2 linked regions of the Homo sapiens genome follow. The protein of the gene in region 1 interacts with the protein of each later gene in a pairwise test. Each region holds a gene or a part of one and is shown on either strand. Other genes may lie near its edges.

Region 1 (11,473 bases):
TTTTGAAGGTTCACCTGGGAGGTAGCCATCAGTACACATCCTTCTCTGAGGTCAGGATACCAATAAGAAAGGGAGGCTGGCAAGCTGAGTGGATGCCTTGGGGATTTTACTCTTATTTTGCCATTTCCCATCCTATCTCCTCACCCTGAGTAACCCCAAGGATTTGGGGGGAAATGAAAATTAGTTTTTCCTCACAAGTTTACAATGGTTTCCTTAACTCAAAAAGGAGTGTTCGGGTATGGGAATGTATCTTGGGTGGGAACTTCAAACACTCTGTATAGGGCTCCCCAATGGCAAGAAAATCTCTTTTCTCTGTTTAGCTCATTTGGAGTAGACATTCTATCAAGAATGTATTAGAGACTACAAAGGAAAGCAGAACAATAATATTCCTTCCTTTATTTCTCATCCTCACTGAATGATATGGCAGGTGTAGTGGAGTCCGAAGGAAAATAGATTTCTTCCCTCCCATCCTAACCGAAAGTGTAGTGATGCCTATAATCCACCTCCATCATAGATGAAAAGTTGAAAAAAATAAAAATATAACAAAGGTAGTTCAGAACTGCTGATAGAGGGGGTTGGATGATTTAACAAAAGAGACAGACAAAAATATTTTACAACACTATAATTATAAAGTTGAAGGCACATCCTTGGCAGAAATATGATCAATTACATGCTTATGAAAAACAAACTACTGAATATCTTAACTACAGTAGATGGATATTGCACAACATCGTCCACTGCTGTTTTCGGTACCAAACAATCAATGTTCAACAACGTTTAGCTAAACATTTCTTTAACTAAAAACGTAAGGTTGAGACGCCTGGTTTTGGCTACAAAAGGCATTTGTTATCAACACTGTGAAAGAAGCTCTTTTAACTGAAGAACAAGAACTCATGCTTTGTGCTCTATCTGGTTACTCATACCAGATGGAGGGACTGCAGAAAGTTAGTGTAAAAATAGGTAATAATTTGGCATGAATCTATATTTTTTCTATTTTGTAAAATAATACTTAAAAATGTAGAAAAGAAACAAAACAAACAAAAACCCAAAAGGAGTGATTCCAGGAATGTCTTTATTCTTTTTAAAATAACCAGTAACCAGATGCCTCACCCAGAGAAAAAAACAAAATGGAGTAAAATAAATATCAAGAAAAATCATTTTAAAGCATGATCCATAAGTAATAGAAAAAATTCTCTTAACATACATTTTTGATTTTAAGCTGTATACAGAAAAGATATGCGCACTTAAAGTTTTGGAAACATCTTGTCTACAGTGCTATTTTAAGCATTCTATACATATGAATAAAGAATACTTTTTAAAAAATTAAAGCACAATATAAAATTACTTGTTCACAAGGCATCAAATTTGACATTCTAAAATGTTGATACTAAACTAGGAAAAATAACGTTTCTATTTTCACAAATGACACACCATACATCTTGAGACTACAATACTACTACTCTAGCTGTGTTTTAATCTTTGAAATTCAAAAGGCATCTTTGGATATTTAAGTTTAAGGTGCCACATAGGTGAGTCTGAACCGGCACTGGATATTAAAGTATCCTTGTTATCTTCAGACTAAGGGCATGGTTGCTGAGTGAATACAGAAGAGTGATAAATGAAATATAAATAGAGAACTTCAAATATTCAAATATCAAATTCAAATATAAATCCATTTCCCTTCAGTATGGTAATATGTATGTATGTGTATGTACATATATATGTGTGTATATATATATGTATGTGAATACACAGAAATACACATTTATAAAATTTCTCATTACTAACTCCTGACTTAAAGCTAGCTACTAACTGAAAGCAGTATTTTTGATTCCCTCCATAATCACCTCTTTCTCCTGTAAATACAGCTTCTCTTTGAAGCTAATGAAAGTTCAAGATTGCAAAAAAGACTTGTGGTAGAGGATTCAAATGTGGCTACATATTACTTAAAGCAGGACTTTTTCTAATTAGCATGTTTTCTGTTCTTGTTGTAAGAGCTGAAATTATCTCTTTGATTATTTCAATACTACAAGCTGCTATTCCCACTGTCCCACAATATGAATACAAGACCAAGAGGATGACTCCAAGGTACACATAATAATGGAAGAATAACTGGCTGTGTTCAACTGCTTGAGGTGGGTGGGAGGGAGAAGGAGGCATGCTTCTTTTTTCAACATTTACCCTATCAGCTCTGTCTTCTAGAAGAAACAAGTTGTATTATAAGATGGGCCACTGGAATTAAAATAATAAATAATAAAACTCAAACTGAAAGCATGGAGGATGGCATAGGCATTGGTCTAAAAAAAGGGCCTAGATATGCAAACCCATTGATATTTCAGTGAAATGGGTTTGCCTTTCTAGATTAATAGCACCTTCATCAAAAGCTTCAGTTCTCTCTTTAAGACAGCTGAGACAGAAATTAGATCTTTTCTAAATCTGAAAGACAGCATGGAATAAGGTTGTAAACTTTGCATGTGTATATATGAAAGGATAAAAGAGAAAAGGGGTAGGAAAGGAAGAACTCCATCCCCTACCCCCACCTGATTTTAAGACTCTGCTCTAGAAAAATGATTTTTTTGTATTTATTACTGACCTCAAGGGGAGAAAAGAACTAACATTTACCGAGTACAAATCCTATGTGCCAGATGTTGGGTTAGCAGCAGCTTTGCTTCTGGTAATGGGAACAAAATGTTAGGAATTTACTTATGAGTCCTCTTCATTTACATATTCTGCATATGAAATCCATCTTGCAACTAACAAAGAAATTTAAATAGTCTTACAAGTACCAGATCTCTGACCAGTGTATTAGCTACCAGGCACTCACAAGGGAATTTCTAAATCCATTTGGCAATGGGAACAAGCTCCTAAATTTGCCAACCACACTAACTAGGCAAGTTCAAATGTTTTAAACTAGAGAAGAGTATATATTTAGCTAAAAAGCGTCATAACCTAGGGAAATTTTAGTTTCTGTATTATGATTTTACTGTATTTTTTGGTAAATGCAGCTTTGTGTAATAGCATTATTTTAAAGTCTTTTTGAGAGGTTATCTGAAACACTAAAAGATAAATAAAATCTATTAAATTATATATACTAGCAAAGTGATTATACTCAATTCAAAAAATACAAATTTAGGCTGGGCATGGAGGCTCACACCTGTAATCCCAGCACTTTGGGAGGCCAAGGCGGGTGGATCACCTGAGGTTAGGAGTTTAAGACCAGGCTAGCCAACATGGCGAAACCCCGTCTCTACTGAAAAATATGAAAATTAGCCGGGTGTGGTGGCAGGCACCTGTAATCCTAGCTACTCAGGAGGCTGAGGCAGGGAGAATTCCTTGAATCCGGTAGGCAGAGGTTGCAGTGAGCCAAGATGGTGCCACTGCACTCCAGCCTGGGCTGCAAAACAAGACTCTGTCTCAACAACAACAACAACAACAACAACAACAACAAACAAATTTAGTGAATCCAGGTAATTTTATATGACCTGTATATGTATAATAGTTTTAATCTTTGAAAATTTTTTGAGCAGAAAAGGCTCATAATGTTAAGTTTCCAGACTGAGATCAGCAGACTACATGAAGAATAACTTAGAGTCCAACTTGGCAGGAGTGAACTGAAACTGAGCACAGAGCTAGGAAACTTGAAGGAATAATTTGATATACTTTTTACAACAGTGGAAAGATGGGAGGCAGGGAACCCTACAGACCTTTAAGGTCTTTTGAGCTACAAAATTTAAAAAGGAGCAAAATATTAGAACAGTTGTCAGTTATTTTTAATCAATGAAAAACCACCTAAACTTGGTTAGCTCGAAAGAAAATAACAAAAGAAGACATATTGGAGCATCTAAAAAAGCACCTGCAAGGACAAGGATGCAGGGAGAATGGGGGAAAGAAAGCCTGCAATAAATAAGGCACATCTATTTTTAAACAGTTTCAACTGTTTCCCTTCTAAAACTAGATGTTTTATACACAGTGCTTTGAAAGTCATTGCTCCCCAGTGGGGCAGGGATACAGGCTTGAGAGTATCTTCAATATTTTGAGTTCAAAAGCATGAATATCTTCATGCTCTCAAATCTTCAAATTTTTCATTTTCTTCTTCTTGGGCCTTTTTTTTTTTGGTCAAATAAAAAAAAAATCACTTTAGCAGCAGTTCAGCAATCTCTAATTGTAGGGCTTGTTGTAAACCTCACTGCTCTACCTTATCTGTTGTTAGTGAAAACAAAAATATACTGGAAATTCAGTTTAAATAAAGCTAGGTTCAGAGCTGATGCCTTGAAAAAGATATTTTTGCCAACAGATAAACGCAACTCAAATAGAATCCCTAATATAAGAGCATGAGAAAAATCCTTCTACAATATTTTGAAAAGTGAAGGTAACATCATGAATGCTGTGTCAGTGCATGACAAGTTAAACTGGCAGCACTCTCCATGGCCTTTTATAATGCAGTGTCATCATCTTCCCTGAAGTCTCCCACCAGGAGTGAGTGCTTGTCAGGTTCACTGGTAACAACACTGTTTAGGGAGCGTTTATCAGACAGTAGTGAGTTTATAGAGGCTCTGCTATAATTAACAATCCGGTCCAGCAAACCCAGTTTAGGAGAATTCCTTGAGGTATCATCTATTCCAACATGAACGCTGATTTCTGAAGGACTCTTCTGTCCTATCTGGCTCCGGGCAGGCAGTTCATAACTCTCGTAAGTTGGTTTCCTGTAACTGGACATATGCAAAAGTATGCTAGTTTCAAATAACCAAAAGTAAATGAGATGCTCGCTACATGCAGAAAAGAAAGAAGATTTGCTCATCCACACTTAGTTTTGGTATGAAATGTATAAAGGTGATCACTGGTAGGAAAATAGCTTGAAACGAATTGTGTGGAGTTATATCATCAGAAACCCTACTTCTCAGAATTAGTGCACTATATTTTATCCCACTCAGTGCTTGTGGTTGCTATGCATAAAGTACACGAAGTAACAATTACATAGCTAATTATTACTGTTAGCTAATAATAATTCTTTTCTTTTTTTGAGATGGAATCTCACTCTGTTGCCTAGGCTGGAGTGCAGTGGCACGATCTCAGCTCACTGCAACCTCCACCTCCCAGGTTCAAGTGATTCTCCTGCCTCAGCCTCCCGAGTAGCTGAGATTACAGGTGTCTACCACCATGCCCAGCTAATTTTTGTATTTCTAGTAGACATAGGGTTTCACCATATTGGCCAGACTGGTCTCAAATTACTGACCTCAGGTGATCTGCCCACCTCGGCCTCCCAAAGTGCTGGGATTACAGGTGTGAGCCACCACGCCCGGCCGCTAATAATAATTCTCATTAAGAATGGTTTGGGCTTATCATTGATCAATACAAGAATAAAACCTACCAAGAATGACTAGATGATAACAGGAATACAAAATACAAATGTGAGCAAGCTATCATACTTACAGTTTAAGGAAGAGAGAAGAAAGTACTACAGAAACAGATGAAGCAGCCATTGCTGCAGATCCCATCCAGGGCTGCAAAACCAAACCAATGGGCATAAAAACTCCTAAGAAACAAGTATGGATTAGTTAGAGTAGATAATACTAAACAGATTATTAATGTGTTTCTAACATACATACAAATCATTTCTTTGTTTGATACTTCTTCAGCATTTATCCTCTTGGTGGTAGAGATTTTTGTTGTTGCCATTTTTTTCACTAACAGAGTGTTGCTGTTAACATTCTTGTACATGTCTCCCCGTGTCCATGTTTGAGAGTTTCTGTGGGGTATATACCTAGGGGTGAAACTACTGGGTCATAACATGGGCACATCTTCAACTTTACGTGGATATTCCTCAGCTGTTCTCCAAAGTGGCTGTAGTGATTCAAAATCCAACCAATAGCGTATGGGAGTTCATGTTCTACAAACTCATCCACACTTGGTTTTCACAGACATAAGAATGTTTGCTCACATGATGAGGATGAAATAGACTCATACTTTTAACTTTTTATGTGCTTCTTTATATTTTTCTACTTTTTCTATGGTGATCATATATTACTTGTATAATTATTTAAAAATCACTTGCTCCATGAATTAATCTTACTGGACTTAGATTGTTCTTTTGTTCTTTGTTCTCTCAGTATTTGTGTGTCCTTGCTGATAAACAGTTTTGTAATTGTTCTCATGTCATTTCTTGTCTTTCCTTGGCCCTCAAACCAGAGAGAACAAGAAGAAAACAATACTTATTTCTTTTATGTCATCATTACTAACTCCTACCAGGTCCCTAAGTTTAGGAGATTCTCAGATGCTTATTAAATAACTCTAAATTCTTTTTTCTCAGTTATATTGCTTTGTTCACTCTCTCTGTCATCTGGTCTCTCAACCTAAAAAAAATACCAGCTGACTATAATAGAATATTAAGTGAAGAGCAGAAAATTCTCCATAAGCTACAATCACAACTATGTAACAAGACAAAAACTGATGTAGAGTAAAAAAAAGACTAGAGGAAAATACTTGTATAATTCTTTAAAAATCATTTGCTCCATGAATTAATCTTGCAAACAGTGTTGGGTTTGGGTAGTCAGATTAAAGGTAAATCTATTTAGAAAAAAATTAATAAGCAAACAAATACATATCTCTGTGCAAATATATGCAGAAAGAGATGAAGCAATGTGGCAAAATACCATCAGTTGGTGAGTTTAGGTGAAAGGCATACAGATTTTTATTGTACCATTTTTTTCAATGTTTTTGGAGGTATGAATTTTTTTTTTTTTTTTTTTTGGAGACGGAGTTTCGCTCTTGTTGCCCAGGCTGAAGTGCGATGGCGCGATCTTGGCTCACCACAACCTCCACCTCTTGGGTTCAAGCGAGTCTACTGCCTCCGTCTCCCGAGTAGCTGGGATTACATGCATGTGCCACCACGCCCGGCTAATTTTGTATTTTTAGTAGAGACGGGGTTTCTCCATGTTGGTCAGGCTGGTCTTGAACTCCCAACCTCAGGTGATCCGCCCACCTCAGCCTCCCAAAGTGCTGGGATTACAGGTGTCAAGTTTGAAATTTTTCAAAATACAAAGTTGAAGGCTGGGAGTGGTGGCTCACAGCTGTAATCCCAACACTTTGGGAGGCCGAGGTGGGTGGATTACCTGAAGTCAGGAGTTCGAGACCAGCCTGGCCAACATGGAGAAACCCCGTCTATACTAAAAATACAAAAATTAGTTGGGCGTTGTGGCGGGCACCTATAGTCCCAGTTACTCAGGAGGCTGAGGCAGGAGAACTGCTTGAACCCAGGAGATGGAGGCTGCAGTGAGCCGAGATTGTATGACTGCACTCCAGCCTGGGCAACAGAGTGAGACTCTGTCTCAAAAAAAAAAAAAAAAAAGTTGGAGGGAAAAAAATAAATCTGTCAGAATGCTTATATATTCTTAAGCTATAACAAACATTACTGAAAATTAAAATGATTGATTTTAACATTACCTCTCACCATACCAGTAGGCTACAAACAAAAACTAAGCTCAAAACTAATAGTAAGAAGACAGGCTTCCAATATGTTAGGTCTCTAATAACTTTAGTGGAAAAAGCAGTACTAGTTAAGAGTCACATACCAGCAGCTATGGGAATTCCAACCAGATTATAAATTAGAGCAAAGACAAAATTTATCCGAATCCTCTTGACTGTCTTTCTTGATAAGTCAATACTTGCCACTACATCCAGAAGATCATTCTAAGAACAGAAATATTTGTGATATTAGTAAGAGACTCTAACTTAACCAGTAACTTTTACATTTGATACTGTGTATGTTGAAGATTACGTCTACCTTAGGGTAATATGTGAATTAATTACAAATCTCAGATAATGCTAAAACTTAGACTCAGCTTCCGAAGGTGTTTTTCAAAAATTTTCCTCAGGGTTCTGAAAACACTTTTAGGGGTGTATGCTGGTACTATGATTAAATCTACTTAAAATAATCTCAGCAACTATTTGTTGAAGATCATTTTATTCCGAATCCATTCTTAAATCTTCTTCTTCACTTCAGAAACTTATAATTCTCACTTGCTTATGAGCTGGGTTGAGAAAGTCAGGGGGTAAATTAGCATGACTTCCCATAATCCCACTCCATATTCTTAAACTCTTAATGGCTGATAGCATGGAACTTAAGACAGAATTGTTATGCTCAATATACTTTATGACATTATCATTGACCACATAGGGCAGTCTCATACTCCTCAAAGGTCAAGCCATGGCACTTACCCTTATCAAAACCACATCAGCTGCTTCAATGGCTACATCTGTGCCTGTGCCAATAGCAATTCCCACATTAGCCATTGCCAGAGCTGGGGAGTCATTGATTCCATCTCCCACCATTGCTACCCGTTTCCCCTCCTCTTGAAGTTGCTTCACTTTAGCAACCTTGTGAGAAGGTAGAACTTCAGCAAACACCTTAGTAATGCCAACCTATGTGATGAAAATAAACTCAATTCATTTAAAAAATAATGAGTACGTGAAACATAACTGAGCAATAACAAGCCATCAGTTTTCACCCACAAGATGTCCACATTTTAAAAGACTGATAATATCTAGTGATAGCAAGGATGTGGAGAAATGAGCTCTCTTATACACCAGTGGCTGGTGTGTAAATTGTAACTCTTTTTGGAGGGCATCTGGCAGCATCTATCAAAATGTGAGCATCATTTGGTCTAGCAATTCCATGTCTAGCTCTATCTTGGACAGGCTTGCACATGTACAGAAAGATACATGTCCAAAGATGTTTATTATTGCCTTGTTTGCAAAAAGAAAATTTTCAAAACCACCCAAATGTCCATCATTAGGGAAATGGTTAAATAAATTATGATACATCCATACCATGGAATTCAGTATAGAAAGAATAAAGTAACTTTGTAACTTTTTTTTTTTTTTTTTTTTGAGACAGAGTCTTGCTCTGTCACCCAGGCTGGAGTGCAATGGTACCATCTCGGCTCACTGCAACCTCCGCCTCCTGGTTCAAGCGATTCTCCTGCCTCAGCCTCCTGAGTAGCTGGGATTACAGGCATGCGCCACCACACCCGGCTAATTTTTGTATTTTTAGTAGAGACAAGGTTTCACCATGCTGGCCAGGCTGGTCTCAAACTCCCGACCTCATGTGATCTGCCCACTTCAGCCTCCCAAAGTGCTGGGATTACAGGCGTGAGCCAACAAACCCGGCCAAAATAACTTTATGTTCAGATATGGATGAAGCTCCAAAGTATACTGTTACGTAAAAAAAGCAAACTACTGAACAATCTGTTCAAAATGATCTGATGTTGAAAAGACCAGAATTATACTGTATATGTACTCTGTATATGCACATATATGCATATGAAAAAGTGGCAGTGTGAGGGGCAGTAGGACTGAATGGGGAGCATGGGGAAAAGAGGACATTTTTACTTTATATCCTTCTGTATTTTTTACATAAGAAGGTGTTAATAGGCCGGGTGCGGTGGCTCACACGTGTAATCCCAGCACTTTGGGAGGCCGAGGCGGGCGGATCACCTGAGGTCCGAAGTTCACGACCAGCTTGACCAACATGGAGAAACCCTGTCTCTACTAAAAATACAAAATTAGCCGGGCGTGGTGGTGTATGCATGTAATCCTAGCTACTCGGGAGGCTGAGGCAAGAGAATCGCTTGAACCCAGGAGGTGGAGGTTGCGATGAGCCGAGATCGCGCCACTGCACTTCAGCCTGGGCAACAAGAGCGAAACTCCGTCCCAAGAAAAAAAAAAGAAACAAAAGAATGTATTAAAAGATTACTTGCATTATTTATTAGAAGAGGGGAGAAGGCATTCCAAAGTTAAAAAGATTGAAAAATTTTAGAGATAAGGCAGATGTGGGAGTCAGGAGCAGAAAAATGGTATGTCAAAGTGGTGCATTAGGAAAATAGTTCCATTGGTGGTGGTATTTAGGATGGACTAGAGAGGGATGTGTGTGGAGCTATTGCTGTGTTTCAGGCATGAGATCAGGAGAGCCCAGCTTAGGTTGGCAGCACTGGTAAAGAATATGAGCAACATTTCAAAGGGCACATCAACAGAAATTGGTGTACAGTGTCACGCAAGCATCCCATGAACTAAGCAAATACCTTTTTACGTATAACAGCAACACACAAAGCCCAAAGTCTTTCCAGCAAAGCATGGTAAATTTTCTTGAAGGAACCAGATAGGACTACTCAGTGATAATGAAAATAGTAGGTAATGTAAATTTCTTAGCATTTGAAGGCAAGATATAAAATGTATATCAATAATTAGAAGTTATCACATACCCCTATCAATTACCTGAGAAGCAATAGATCTAGCTGTTTTACTGTTGTCTCCAGTCATCAGAACTACTTCTAAGCCCATAGATTTCAGAATATGGATAGCCAGTTCTGCTTCAGGCTTCACTGTGTCTGCAATGGCTATCAAGCCACACAGCTCATCTAATATAGGGGCAGCACAAAATAAAAGAACTTGGAATATAGTGAAAGGAGAATAACATTTTGACTTGAAATTTCAGAATGAAATGAATTTTCTCAAGTAAAGTTGTTCAGGGCATGGCTTAACTTAAAATATCTCTAAGCCCACACAGACTTTATACTACAAACTCTGTAACAAGCCTCCATATTTGGTTATGAAAATTTCAGAGTGAGGTAGGGGTTACTAATAAAGTAATCACAGGAAAATAAAAAGAGAGACCTTACTGGATATTAGAAGACCCTTTTTGTTCCTCAGAAAGGTATTTGCCAACAGCCTCAAACACTTTATCTAATTTATAGGCAAATGAAACTGAAGATTAATACTTTTTTTCTTTTTAAGGTAAGGGGGGGGGGGCAGAGAGAGACAAAATGGGCACTTTATAGTGGGAAAAATATTACCATAAATCTTATTATTTTATTCTATTTACAAAACAAAAGTAAAATGGTATTCTCTGCTTCTTCCCAGACCTAAAAAGGCCATAGTAAAAGACTGCCTTCATACTTAGCAGACATTATAAATGTAGAGTGGAATTAATCTCACAACTAGAAATTTACCCTAAGAAATAACAAAATAAAGCACATACAACCTCAAAGATATTTATTGTAGTGTCATTTACAATAGTGAAATATTAGGAATAGCCTAAATTTCCAACAAGAGGGGAATGATTATAGTGTGTAAGATTGATAAATTATGCAGTATTATAGTAAAATTATATAGCAACATTAGAAAGCATTAAGTAAAATAAAGCATAATAAAATAGTATGTGTACAAGTGATTTTAACTTTATTGAGGTAAAATTTACTTACGATAAAATGTACCCAGTAAAAAATGGTATATGTACTAATACTGTAATTCTGCAAACACACACACATTTCAAGAAAACTAGGAATGGAATATACAAAATTAAAACTGACGTTGTGGGCTGGGCATGGTGGCTCACGCCTGTAATCCCAGCACTTTGGGAGGCCGAAGTGGGTGGATCACCTGAGGTCAGGAGTTCAAGACCAGCCTGGCCAAGATGGTG
Region 2 (11,275 bases), on another chromosome or scaffold:
TCAGGCCGGGCGCCGTGGCTCACGCCTGTAATCCCAGCACTTTGGGAGGCTGAGGCGGGTGGATCACGAGGTCAGGAGATTGAGACCATCCTGGCTAACACAGTGAAAACCCGTCTCTACTAAACATACAAAAAATTAGCCAGGCATGGTGGCAGACGCCTGTAGTCCCAGCTACTCGAGAGGCTGAGACAGGAGAATAGCGTGAACCCGGGAGGTGGAGCTTGCAGTGAGCTGAGATTGCGCCATTGCACTCCAGCCTGGGCACAGAGGGAGACTCCGTCTCAAAAAAAAAAAAAAAAAAAAAAAAACCCTCGGGAGCTTTCAGACCCTTTGAATACAAACACTTCCCTGTTGGGGATCAAACATGCAGCTTTAAAAGGCTTGTTCTTCCCCTAGGAGGAATGCACTCAGAATTCAAGAATCTGTGAAAAACATTTTTCTAAAAATGAAAAACAGGCTTGTTGAGGTGGATCACATCTGTAATCCCAGCACTCTGGGAAGCTGAGGTGGGAGGATAGCTTGAGGCCAGGAGTTCAAGACCAGCCTGGGTAACATAACAAGACCCCCATCTGTACAAAAACTTAAAAAATTAGCTGGGTATGATGGCTCATGCCTGTAGTCCCAGCCACGGGAGGCTGAGGTGGGAGGGTCACTTAAGCCCAGGAGTTCGAGGCTGCAGTCAGCTATCATTGCACCACTGCACTCTAGCCTGGGTGACAGAGCAAGACTCTGTCTCTTAAAAAAAAAAAAAAAAAAAAAAACCTTAAAAGATTACTACAAGAAATATTGTTGTTCTACAAAGAAATGAAAAAGCAATTGTTGACCAGGTGTGGTAGCTCACACCTGCACTTTGGGAGGCTGAGGTGGGTGGATCACCTGAGGTCAGGAGTTCGAGACCAGGTTGGCCAGCATGGTGAAACCCCATCTCTAATAAAAATACAAAAATTAGCTAGGTGTGGTGGCAGGTGCCCGTAATTCCAGCTACTTGATTGCTTGAACCTGGGCGGTGGAGGTTGCAGTAAGCCAAAATCACACCACTGCACTCCAGCCTGGGCGACAAGAGCGAAATTCCATCTCAAAAAAAAAAAAAAAGCAATTGTTAAATGAACACATGAAGAGGTTTGCTTTACCTCCTGGAAAATAGATGCTGTTGGGCTGAGAACAATAATCCCAATTGTGTTGCACATTGGAATCCCCAAGGGATTTTTCCAAATAAAAATCCCAGGTGTGGTGGCTCACCCGTTTAATCCCAGCACTTTGGGAGGCCGAGGTAGGTGGATCGCCTGAGGTCAGGAGTTCGACACCAGCCTGGCCAACATGGTGAAACCCCGTCTCTACTAAAAATACAAAAATTAGCTGGGCATGGTGGTGGGCGCCTGTAATCCCAGCTACTTGGGAGGTTGAGGAGAACCCAGGAGGCAGAGGTTGCAGTGAGCCAAGATTGCACCATTGCACTCCAGCCTGGGTGACAAGAATGAAACTGTCTCAAAACAAACGAACAAACAAAACTAATGCTTGGCTCCCACCTCTGACATTGTGATTTAGTTATTGAGGGGCATAATTTGGGCATAAGGATTGTTTTAAAAGCTCTCTAGGTGATCCTAATGTGCAGCAAAGTTTGGGAACCAATGGCTAAAAGGTCCTCAGGGTGGCAGCCACAGTGGGGCCCGTAGTAGTGTTTGCACTGCCCTTTACACCTCTCAGGGCCTGGGCATCCTATGCAGCTGGTGGTCCCACTAGGCAGCAAGAGCTTCTCTCGTCATTGTGTATACTCCAGGACCTCAGCACACAGCAGTAGGATAACACACTAAGCCCCCTTTCTGCACCAAAATGCTGACTTCTTATTAGAGAGAAGGGGAGAGAAACAACCTCCAATGCTTTATACTCAGAACCCAGAGACAACCTTGTAAGTCAAACTAAAACTGAAATAGGATATGTGCTTGGCCTAACACTGTGCTGTAGAATTCGTGCATCGTAAAAGAGAACTTAGCTGAGCTGGTGGGACATTTCTCATCCCACCTCACAGCAGAACTGATACAGGTGATGTGGCTGGCATCCCTCCTGAAGCCCAGGACGCAAAGCCAAGGATGCTGAAGAGAGGGAAGTCTTTCGGATGGAGGAGAGCAATTTTTAGAGGGTCCCACAGTCTATTCGTAGCAAATGGGACTCTGAGGTCACCTAATCTGGTCTTGCAGCTGGGATCTTTGAGGACTACTGGGGTGGTGACTTGCCCAGGATCACACAGCCAGCCATTATAAGAGCCAGGCCAGAACTCCAGGCTATGATTCCCTACAATGTGGGGCCTGGAAACATCCATAATTAATTTAGAACAAGGGGCAGATAACGGTACATTAGATTTTTCCAGTGGGAGGAATTAGATAAGGAAGAATGAGCAAATTAGAAAAAGAAAGCCTAGAGAAAAGAATGAAGAACATGAATCTCATGTTAAATAACAAACACATCACACCCGGCCCTCCACCCCAGCTTCCACCTCCAGCCCTGCCAACTGAAAACTGTCATTTCCTGGCAGTGCTTAAAACAAAGACTCTAGATAATTCCCCAGGGACTCACCGGCAAGCTGCTGGTCCCACTTACCCTGCCGCACAGCAGACATCAGCTGTACTCCCTCTTCTGCCCCGTGAAGACCTTTGGCTGCAGTGCCGCCGCTCATTCAAGTGACCGAGATCCTCTCTAAGGCGCCCTCCCCCACACCCCCCGCCCCGCACAGCCCTCTGGACGCCTTGAAGTACGGAGCCGCAGCCTTATCCTAAAGAAAGGCACAGCTCTGACAAGAAAAGGCAATCCGGGAGCCTTTCCCTAGCCGTTTAAAATGAAACTCACCGTTCTTGCTCCCGTGAGCTGTTGCAAATAATCTTGAATCTCGTTAGTGTGGTTGGTGGCTGTGATATCGACAAATTCCAGAAGCCCTTGTTTGATGGGCAATTGACTGAGGATCTCTTGGGCCCTCCTGCAGTACGGGCAGGTGGGCTTGATGAACACAACCACCTTCCCAGGCTGGATTTTGCAGTTCACAAACTCTTGAGCCATGCCGATGGGCTGCGGTCTCCCCGGGAAGAATCCTCAGTTGCAGGTATTGCTTGGGGTATTGAGCCCCGACCCAGCCAGTTGGCTCCTATTTAATAAGGAACCTCCCTGGAGGCGGAGTTTGCCTGGTAGCTTGCTCGAGTTTTAAAGGGACAGCTTCGAAGACATTTCCATCTGGTATACTTCACTAGTTAGCAATGCCCAGGAATGCAATACTTGCTATTTAATCATTGGTAGCTATGAAAGACACTCTGGGTATCTTTGTTGTCCTTGGACATTTGGGGAGTGCCTGCCCATTGGCAATGATCAGAGTTTAGTCACCTCTGGGGAAGCATAAAGTGCTTACTCACAAAGGGGCTGAGGAGGCAGTGACTTCTTAGAGCAAATTCTTGTTTTCCCTCTAGGAGATACAGTTGTATTTTAAAATGCAAACAGAATCACTTAAGAAACAGAACACTTGGAAATCTCTTTAGAAGAAGTGAAATTGAAACTGTGACTTTGCACTCCTCATGAAGGTTGCTCTCACAGCATTTTGCTTGGACTGTATGGTGGGTGTTTGTTGTTGTGATCTTTTTAATGGAATTCATTCTCAGTATTTAAAAATCTGGAGGTCTCACAAAACAATTCGGACTTAAAACTTCTCTCTGAAAAGTCAGGTCGGGCAATACAGAGCTTGCACCTTTTAGTGGAAGCTGCTGGGGCTGACAGCTGTTGCCCCCTTTGTATAGGGCAAGTAGTGGCTTTGGTTTGCCACAGGTCCCAACGACAGGCCCATGCCTGAGACACCGGCTTCACCCCATAACCATTTGAGTTGGTAACCCTTGAACAGCAGTTTAATATGGAGGCAAATTCCAACACAATCCTTGATACAAAACTACAGATGAAATGAGAATCTTTTTTTCTGGTTGAGCCTATGTTTGTGACCCTCTGCTTTTAACTGTTTGTGAGGGGAAGTAGTGTTGTAACTCAGACACCACATTCACTTCAAGTGTTATAAGACACGGGTTGTAACAGTAGGAAATCTTTCGCTCTTCCCCAGGGTGCCCATTCTCCTTATCCCGCAAAGCAAAGTCCTCTACTCCTGGGTCTAGTTCCGGCCCCCTCTAGTGTATGGTAGCTTAAATAAACAAATCAAGGAAAAACTATGTCCTTTAAACGTGAATCATCCTTTCCCCAGGAAGTTTTATGGTGAAACCAGAGTATCTTCAAAGAGGCGGGGCCAAGGCCAGAGCTGGACACCACGACTGCCACGTAAGAGGAATCCCAAGCATACTGCGATCAAGGGAAGGGAAGAAAATCCACTCCCAGAAGCAGCTTTTTACTGTGACTCTCATCGTTACTAGAATTAAAATGGCAAAATGAGAAAGCCAGATTCTGAGTCACGGAGGGGGAGCTAAGTGACAGCTCTGTCCAGAGAAAAGGATGTGGCAGGGCTGGGAGGCCCCTCACGTGGTCAGGGCTCCGGACTTCCCACTTCCCACTTCCCTCCAAAGTAGGCTCTGCCACAGAGTCTGAGCCTCCTCTCTTTTTTCATTCTTTTACCTCAGAACCCTGTGGCCAGGCTCCTTCCAGAGGCCCCTGCCAGGAGGTCCAGGGTCTGTTTCAGGGCCCTCAGGCTGTTGCCTTAAGTTCCCTCAGCCTGAGGTTTATCCACACGACTTGCACCTGCTACTCACTCAGAGCCTTTCTCTTCTCCGGTCTGTTGTTGGCTCCTCCCTTCCTGGTGCCTCAGCCTGCCACTGTGTTCAAGTTAAAAGCCACCACCACCACCACCACTCCCCATTTCCTGCTTTCCTGCCTCTGCCCTTTCATGAAATTTACTGTCTGTACCTTTCTCACCTCCATTCTCTCATTTTGTTGTTATCTGACCTTGTCAACCATTCTGCTGAATTGTTGGCAGACACTAATCATGGCCTCTATGTCACCAAATGACCATTTAGCTAGGTATCCTGACCTTTTGCAAATTAGTCACCTGCCCCAAGAGGCTGGGATCCAGGGAGACTATTGTCTGCCTCTCACTCAGTCCCGGGGACTGCCTGGTGTCTGAAGCCTTAGGACAGATGGCCATAAGGCACAAGCTAAAGGCAATTTTTTTGTGAGGCACCATGTGGAAAATGGGAGACAAAGAGATGGCAAAGAACGGGTGTCCTCTCCATTTCTCAGAAAATGCTGTGGCTTCAACTCAGTGAAAAATGACAAGCATAGAAGCCTCTGCTGCATTGTACAGCAGGAGCTGAAACCCAGCATGGACCTTAGGGCATCTCAATGGAAAGCCGCCATGGGGACTGCAGATGCGTCAAGTGCTGTGGATGGAAAGAGGGTGTGCGTGTGGACTAACACGTGTGGACTCTCCTTTGGCTTGTGTGAGACACTCCCAGGCACTCTCAGAAAATACACCTTGGAGGGTGGGAAGTGAGGGCATTTTTTAGGGGAGAATCAGTCCTGCTTTACAGATGGTTGGCAACAAGCTAGTGAAATATGTGTGGTTACTCTTTTTTTTTTTTTTTTTTTTTTTGAGACGGAGTCTCACTCTGTTGCCCAGGCTGGAGTGCAGTGGCACGATCTCTGCTCACTGCAAGCTCCGCCTCCCGGGTTCACACCATTCTCCTGCCTCAGCCTCCTGAGTAGCTGAGACTACAGGCACCCGCCACCATACCCGGCTAATTTTTTGTATTTTTAGTAGAGACGGGGTTTCACCGTGTTAGCCAGGATGGTCTCGATCTCCTGACCTCGTGATCTGCCCACCTCAGCCTCCCAAAGTGCTGGGATTATAGGCGTGAGCCACCGTGCCCGGCCAATGTGACTTCATTTGTACTCACAGGCTGATGAGGGCTGCAAAAAATGTGGCCACAAACGAACATTCTTCAGGGTTTTTCCTTACCCACTGTGCAGGGTTTGACCTTGTAGATCACTGCAGGCCTCTGGAAGTTCTCTTCCCACTGCCCATTGCAGCATGATCTTTTTGCTCTTTCTATTGGATATTGTCTCAGTGTCTTTGTTAAGAATTTTGCCTACACATATGGTCTATCTTGGGGCTTGATCTTCTCATTGTGTACACACCCACTCCTTGAGAGGTCGTAGCTCCACACATGACTCCAGCTGTCAGCTTTTTACTGATGAGCATCACGTTTTTCCTTATCTGGACCTCTCTCCTAAGCTTCAGGGAAGGCTATCTCATTGCCTACTGAAAAGACCCACCTGGGGATTCCTTAGGCCTCTCAGCCTCTAGGCAGCCAAAACTGAATCTCCCCTGAAGCCACCCTCTTTCCTCCATACCTGCTCATTGAGCCTGCATGCACCTTCATGTACCTTTTCGGCCAGGGCGGAAACCTGGCAGGCATCTGTGCTGGCCTCTGCTTTCACTTATGCATAGTGGCCAAACCCTACCAAGTTTGCCTCCTGAGTGCCTCCCTGGTCTGAACACCTGACTGCTCCTGCTGCTCTAGCCCTCATTAGTTCTTCACTCCCTCTTGTAGCACCTCCACCCTCGCCTCACTGCCTACTCCACACTGCTGCTGGGGCAATCTTTAAAAATACAGAACCTATCTTGTTCCCTCTTAAAACTAGTCCATGGGCTGGGCGTGGTGGCTCATGCCTGTAATCCCAGCACTTTGGGAGGCTGAGGCGAGCAGATCATGAGGTCAGGAGTTTGAGACCAGCCTGGCCAATATGGTGAAACCCCATCTCTACTAAAAATTTAAAAATTAGCTGGGCGTGGTGGCGTGTGCCTGTAGTCCCAGCTCTTTGGGAGGCTGAAACAGGAGACTCTCTTGAACCCGGGAGGCAGAGGTTGCAGTGAATGGAGATTGTGCCACTGCACTCCAGCCTGGGTGACAGAGCAAGACTCCAACTCAAAAAACAAACAAACAAACAAACAAACAAAAAACTAGTCCATGTTTCCCCAGGACAAAATCCAGATTTCCCTGTGGGGATGTGGCCCTGTGTGATGGGTCCTCCCTACCTTGTTCATCGTATCCCAGCCTCCCCACCAACATTTTAGAGACAGGAGGCAGCCAAGGGTCCCTGGTGAAACCCTGCCTCCAAGTCTAAAACAACCTGAAGGCTGAAAAACTGGACTGCTGTCCTAGTACTTTGGGAGGCCAAGGCAGGTGGATCACCTGAGGTCAGCAGTTCAAGACCAGCCTGGCCAACATGGTGAAACCCTATCTCTACTAAAAATACAAAAAAAATTAGCTGGGCATGGTGACAGGCGCCTGTAATCCCAGCTACTTGGGAGGCTGAGGCAGGAGAATCACTTGAACCCAGGAGGCGAAGGTTGCAGTGAGCCAAGATCGTGCCATTGCACTCCAGCCTGGGCAACAAGGGCAAAATTCTGTCTCAAAAAATACCAGAAACAAAGACAAAAATTGGACTGCTGGTCCTGGATGAGGCCCACCTTTTCCTGACTGATTCTTTCTGAATAATGCCCACCTGTGCACTGGGAAGGCGGAATGGAACTTTGGGAAGTTTGCACCGTTTGCAGCGAGGAGGAGCCTGGCCTCTCCTGTTCCTGTGTGCTGACCTGGAACTCAATCTGTGAGCCGGGAAACCTGCTATCAGGACTCTCTCTTGCTTTGCTGAGAATTATTTTTCCTTTTTCCTTTTCATCCAATAAATTCCATTTTCCTCACCCTTCTGTGTGTCCGCAAGCCTAATCTTTCCTGGTCGTGTGACAAGAGCCCAGTTTTACCGGAACTAAGGGGAAAGTTCTGCAACAATTTCTCCTTTGCTCCAACTGTGTGGACTCTGAGCCATTTCGTCATTGCTGCCACTCACACTTTGGACCTGCTGCTCCCTGTGCCCAGGGTGCCCTTCCTCTTATTTCTGTGTGGCTGACTCCTGCTGGCCCAAAGGGACTCAGATCAGGATGGTGTGTTAGCACCTCTAGGAAGTACCCCAAAACACACACCTCTTTCCCCCATGGGATGGGTGCCTCTCCATGGAGCTCACATGTCATACTGCGCCCTGACTCATCACATGTCATTGTTCCTTTGTATTAATTTTCTGTCATCTACAGTGAGTTCCTTGAGGGCAGGGAAAGGGCTTTTTATCTCTGCATTACCAGAGCCCAACAGATACACACTGGTTCTTATCCATCCACCCATTCATCCAACAAACATTTATTAATCAACTACTCTCAGCCAAACACAAACATCCATCATACAGCCCCAGGTCTTAGGAGTTTATAGTTTAGTGGGCAATATAAACAAGGAAAATGGACACAAGTGTTAGAAAGTGTTCTAGTTAACAGAAGTGTGTATGGGCATTAGGTTAACCAAAGGGAGTAGTCACTCCCACCTGGAGGGTGACTGGGGAAAGGGCCCACATCAAAGGAGAGCTAGGCTGAATCTTGAGGGATAAGAAGAAGCTTCTGAGTGTACAAGGAAGGGAGGGGCATTGCAGGCAGAAGGAGTAGGAAAAGGAAGAACAACATAAACGGTGCTCGACATTGAACATGGATAGAGCATTAGGGGTTTGCGTGGGGAGAGGAGAGACAACTGGAGAGCAGGCAGAGAATAGGGGAACTTTACCACACTGCAGAGGGAGGAGTTCACACACAGGCACCAAGGAGCTGGAACAGGCATACTTTATATATGGATAGATTTGTAGTCAAACGTTTGATGTATTAATGATGGTGTCACATCTCCCAAGTCACACAATGAGTACCTAAATGCAGTTTGATCACAGAAGGGCTCTAATGAGTGACAGGAATGCTTTGGAGCTGGCAAAACTTTCAGGGTCCCTCTGTGTTCACCCTGGGACCAGTCCTGGCTTCCACAAGGCTTGAAGTGGTACGAAGGGGCGGCTCAGGGGGTGGTGGGCTGCCATTGCTCCAGCTGCCCTCAAGGCTGCTACACTAAGCATGGCTGCCCATGTGGCCCCTTAGGCATGCTGCTGTGGGGGCTCAGGTGAGAGAGCCTTGGTACCAGCTGCCTTTTTCAACCTCAGACAATGAAGGTTCTGGTTTGGGGCCGTGCCTTGTTTTCAGAGTCTAATTCTTTAGGAAGCTCTCTCTGGCCCTCTCCAGATTTGACTGCGGGGGGCACTGACTCTGGCTCTAACTGCAGTCTCTCTGGACAGATGTTTCCTTGCCTTCTACCTCTATGCAGGGCTGTGTGATACTGAACTCAGTAACACTGACAGCTACCATTTACTATGTACCTACTGTGTGCTGGGCTCAGTGCTAAGAGCTTTATATGCATGATCTCTAATCATCACAGCAACTTTGAAAAGTTGATATTTTGGATCCCAAACTGACTAGAAGAATAAGGAAAATCTTCCTAACTTGAGGGACTTGAAGTTCAGCCAAGGTCAGGAGTACGGGCTGCCTCCCTACAGGCTGCCTCCCTACAGGCTCTGCCATACATTTGGAAAGTCTCTCTTGTTGCCCCGTGTCTGCAAACAACCATTCCAGAGGCAATGGGAAAGCGTTAATCTAAAGTTTTCCCACACCAAACCTCCCCTTGTGTTATTGGTTAAATTGCATCACAGGCTCATTCCTAACCCAGAGACTAGCAAAAGGAATGGAGTGACCACCACTTTTAGAGAAAATGAGGCCCATTGCTAGATTAGAAATGGTTTGACTTCTTTTTTTTTTTTATTATACTTTAAGTTTTAGGGTACGTGTGCACAATGTGCAGGTTAGTTACATATGTATACATGTGCCATGCTGGTGTGCTGCACCCATTAACTCGTTATTTAGCATTAGGTATATCTCCTAAAGCTATCCCTCCCCCCTCCCCCCACCCCACAACAGTCCCCAGAGTGTGATGTTCCCCTTCCTGTGTCCATGTGTTCTCACTGTTCAATTCCCACCTATGAGTGAGAATATGTGGTGTTTGGTTTTTTGTTCTTGCGATAGTTTACTGAGAATGATGATTTCCAATTTCATCCATGTCCCTACAAAGGACATGAACTCATCATTTTTTATGGCTGCATAGTATTCCATGGTGTATACGTGCCACATTTTCTTAATCCAGTCTATCCTTGTTGGACATTTGGGTTGGTTCCAAGTCTTTGCTATTGTGAATAGTGCTGCAATAAACATACGTGTGCATGTGTCTTTATAGCAGCATGATTTATAGTCCTTTGGGTATATACCCAGTAATGGGATGGCTGGGTCAAATGGTATTTCTAGTTCTAGATCCCTGGGGAATCGCCACACTGATTTCCACAAGGGTTGAACTAGTTTACAGTCCCACCAACAGTGTAAAAGTGTTCCTATTTCTCCACATCCTCTCCAGCACCTGTTGTTTCCTGACTTTTGAATGATTGCCATTCTAACTGGTGTGAGATGGTATCTCATTGTGGTTTTGATTTCCATTTCTCTGATGGCCAGTGATGGTGAGCATTTTTTCATGTGTCTGTTGGCTGCATAAATGTCTTCTTTTGAGAAGTGTCTGTTCATGTCCTTTGCCCACTTTTTGATGGGGTTGTTTTTTTCTTGTAAATTTGTTTGAGTTCATTGCAGATTCTGGATATTAGCCCTTTGTCAGATGAGTAGGTTGCAAAAATTTTCTCCCATTTTGTAGGTTGCCTGTTCACTCTGATGGTAGTTTCTTTTGCTGTGCAGAAACTCTTTAGTTTAAAGGGAGAGCTCTGATGGGGAGAAGTAGATTCCTTAGCAAACAGGAATTCCCTAGGAAGGAAGAAGAGAAAAATGGTTGTGGGGTAGGCAACCAACAGTGTTCATTGCCAACTCCTAGCACAAACTCCTTAGAACCAGTGAGCCACCAATAGGAACTTTATCTTGCTTAGACAGACAAAACTGAAAACACTGAAATAAAAGGTGGGGCTTGTGCTGTTGGGAAGAAGGTTTTATCTACTCCAGGCCTAAATGTTTTTCAGTGAGGTTATCGAAATGATATTTATTTAACAAATAAATATCCCATTAGAGTAGGTATCAGTACCTGCCATTTGCAGGTAAGAAAACAGACCCAGGAAGGTTAGGAGACTTTGTCCCGGGCTTCCCAGCAAGGAAGCGCCAGATGTGGGATTCAAGCTCAGGTGTTGGGTCCAAAGCAGATGCTCTCTCTGCTGCTCTACAGAGCAAATTCCAAGGTCTTAAAGGAAGGATAACACAAGCCTGAAAGGGGTCCCGAAGACCATCTATTCTAACCCCCTCGTGAGCTTGCCTCCATGCCATGGCATTTTTCCCACTGGGCACTTGTCCAGCCTTCCCTTGAACCCCTCCATGGAACAGGCAGGAATTCACATCTATGAAAAGAAT

The links.
Region 2: the proteins of ATP7A (region 1) and GLRX interact in a two-hybrid assay, tested with the Homo sapiens proteins (one study listed by BioGRID).

The regions. Positions count from the first base shown.
Region 1 is NC_000023.11:78,039,530-78,051,002, reverse strand, and holds the end of ATP7A (copper-transporting ATPase 1), read right to left. Parts: intron 10,413-11,473; coding exon 10,270-10,412; intron 8,419-10,269; coding exon 8,215-8,418; intron 7,687-8,214; coding exon 7,569-7,686; intron 5,534-7,568; coding exon 5,431-5,533; intron 4,710-5,430; coding exon 4,433-4,709; 3' UTR 608-4,432; downstream 1-607. UniProt on the Homo sapiens protein: ATP-driven copper (Cu(+)) ion pump that plays an important role in intracellular copper ion homeostasis.
Region 2 is NC_000005.10:95,819,615-95,830,889, forward strand, and holds the start of GLRX (glutaredoxin-1), read right to left. Parts: upstream 3,113-11,275; 5' UTR 3,049-3,112; coding exon 2,842-3,048; intron 1-2,841. UniProt on the Homo sapiens protein: Has a glutathione-disulfide oxidoreductase activity in the presence of NADPH and glutathione reductase. Reduces low molecular weight disulfides and proteins.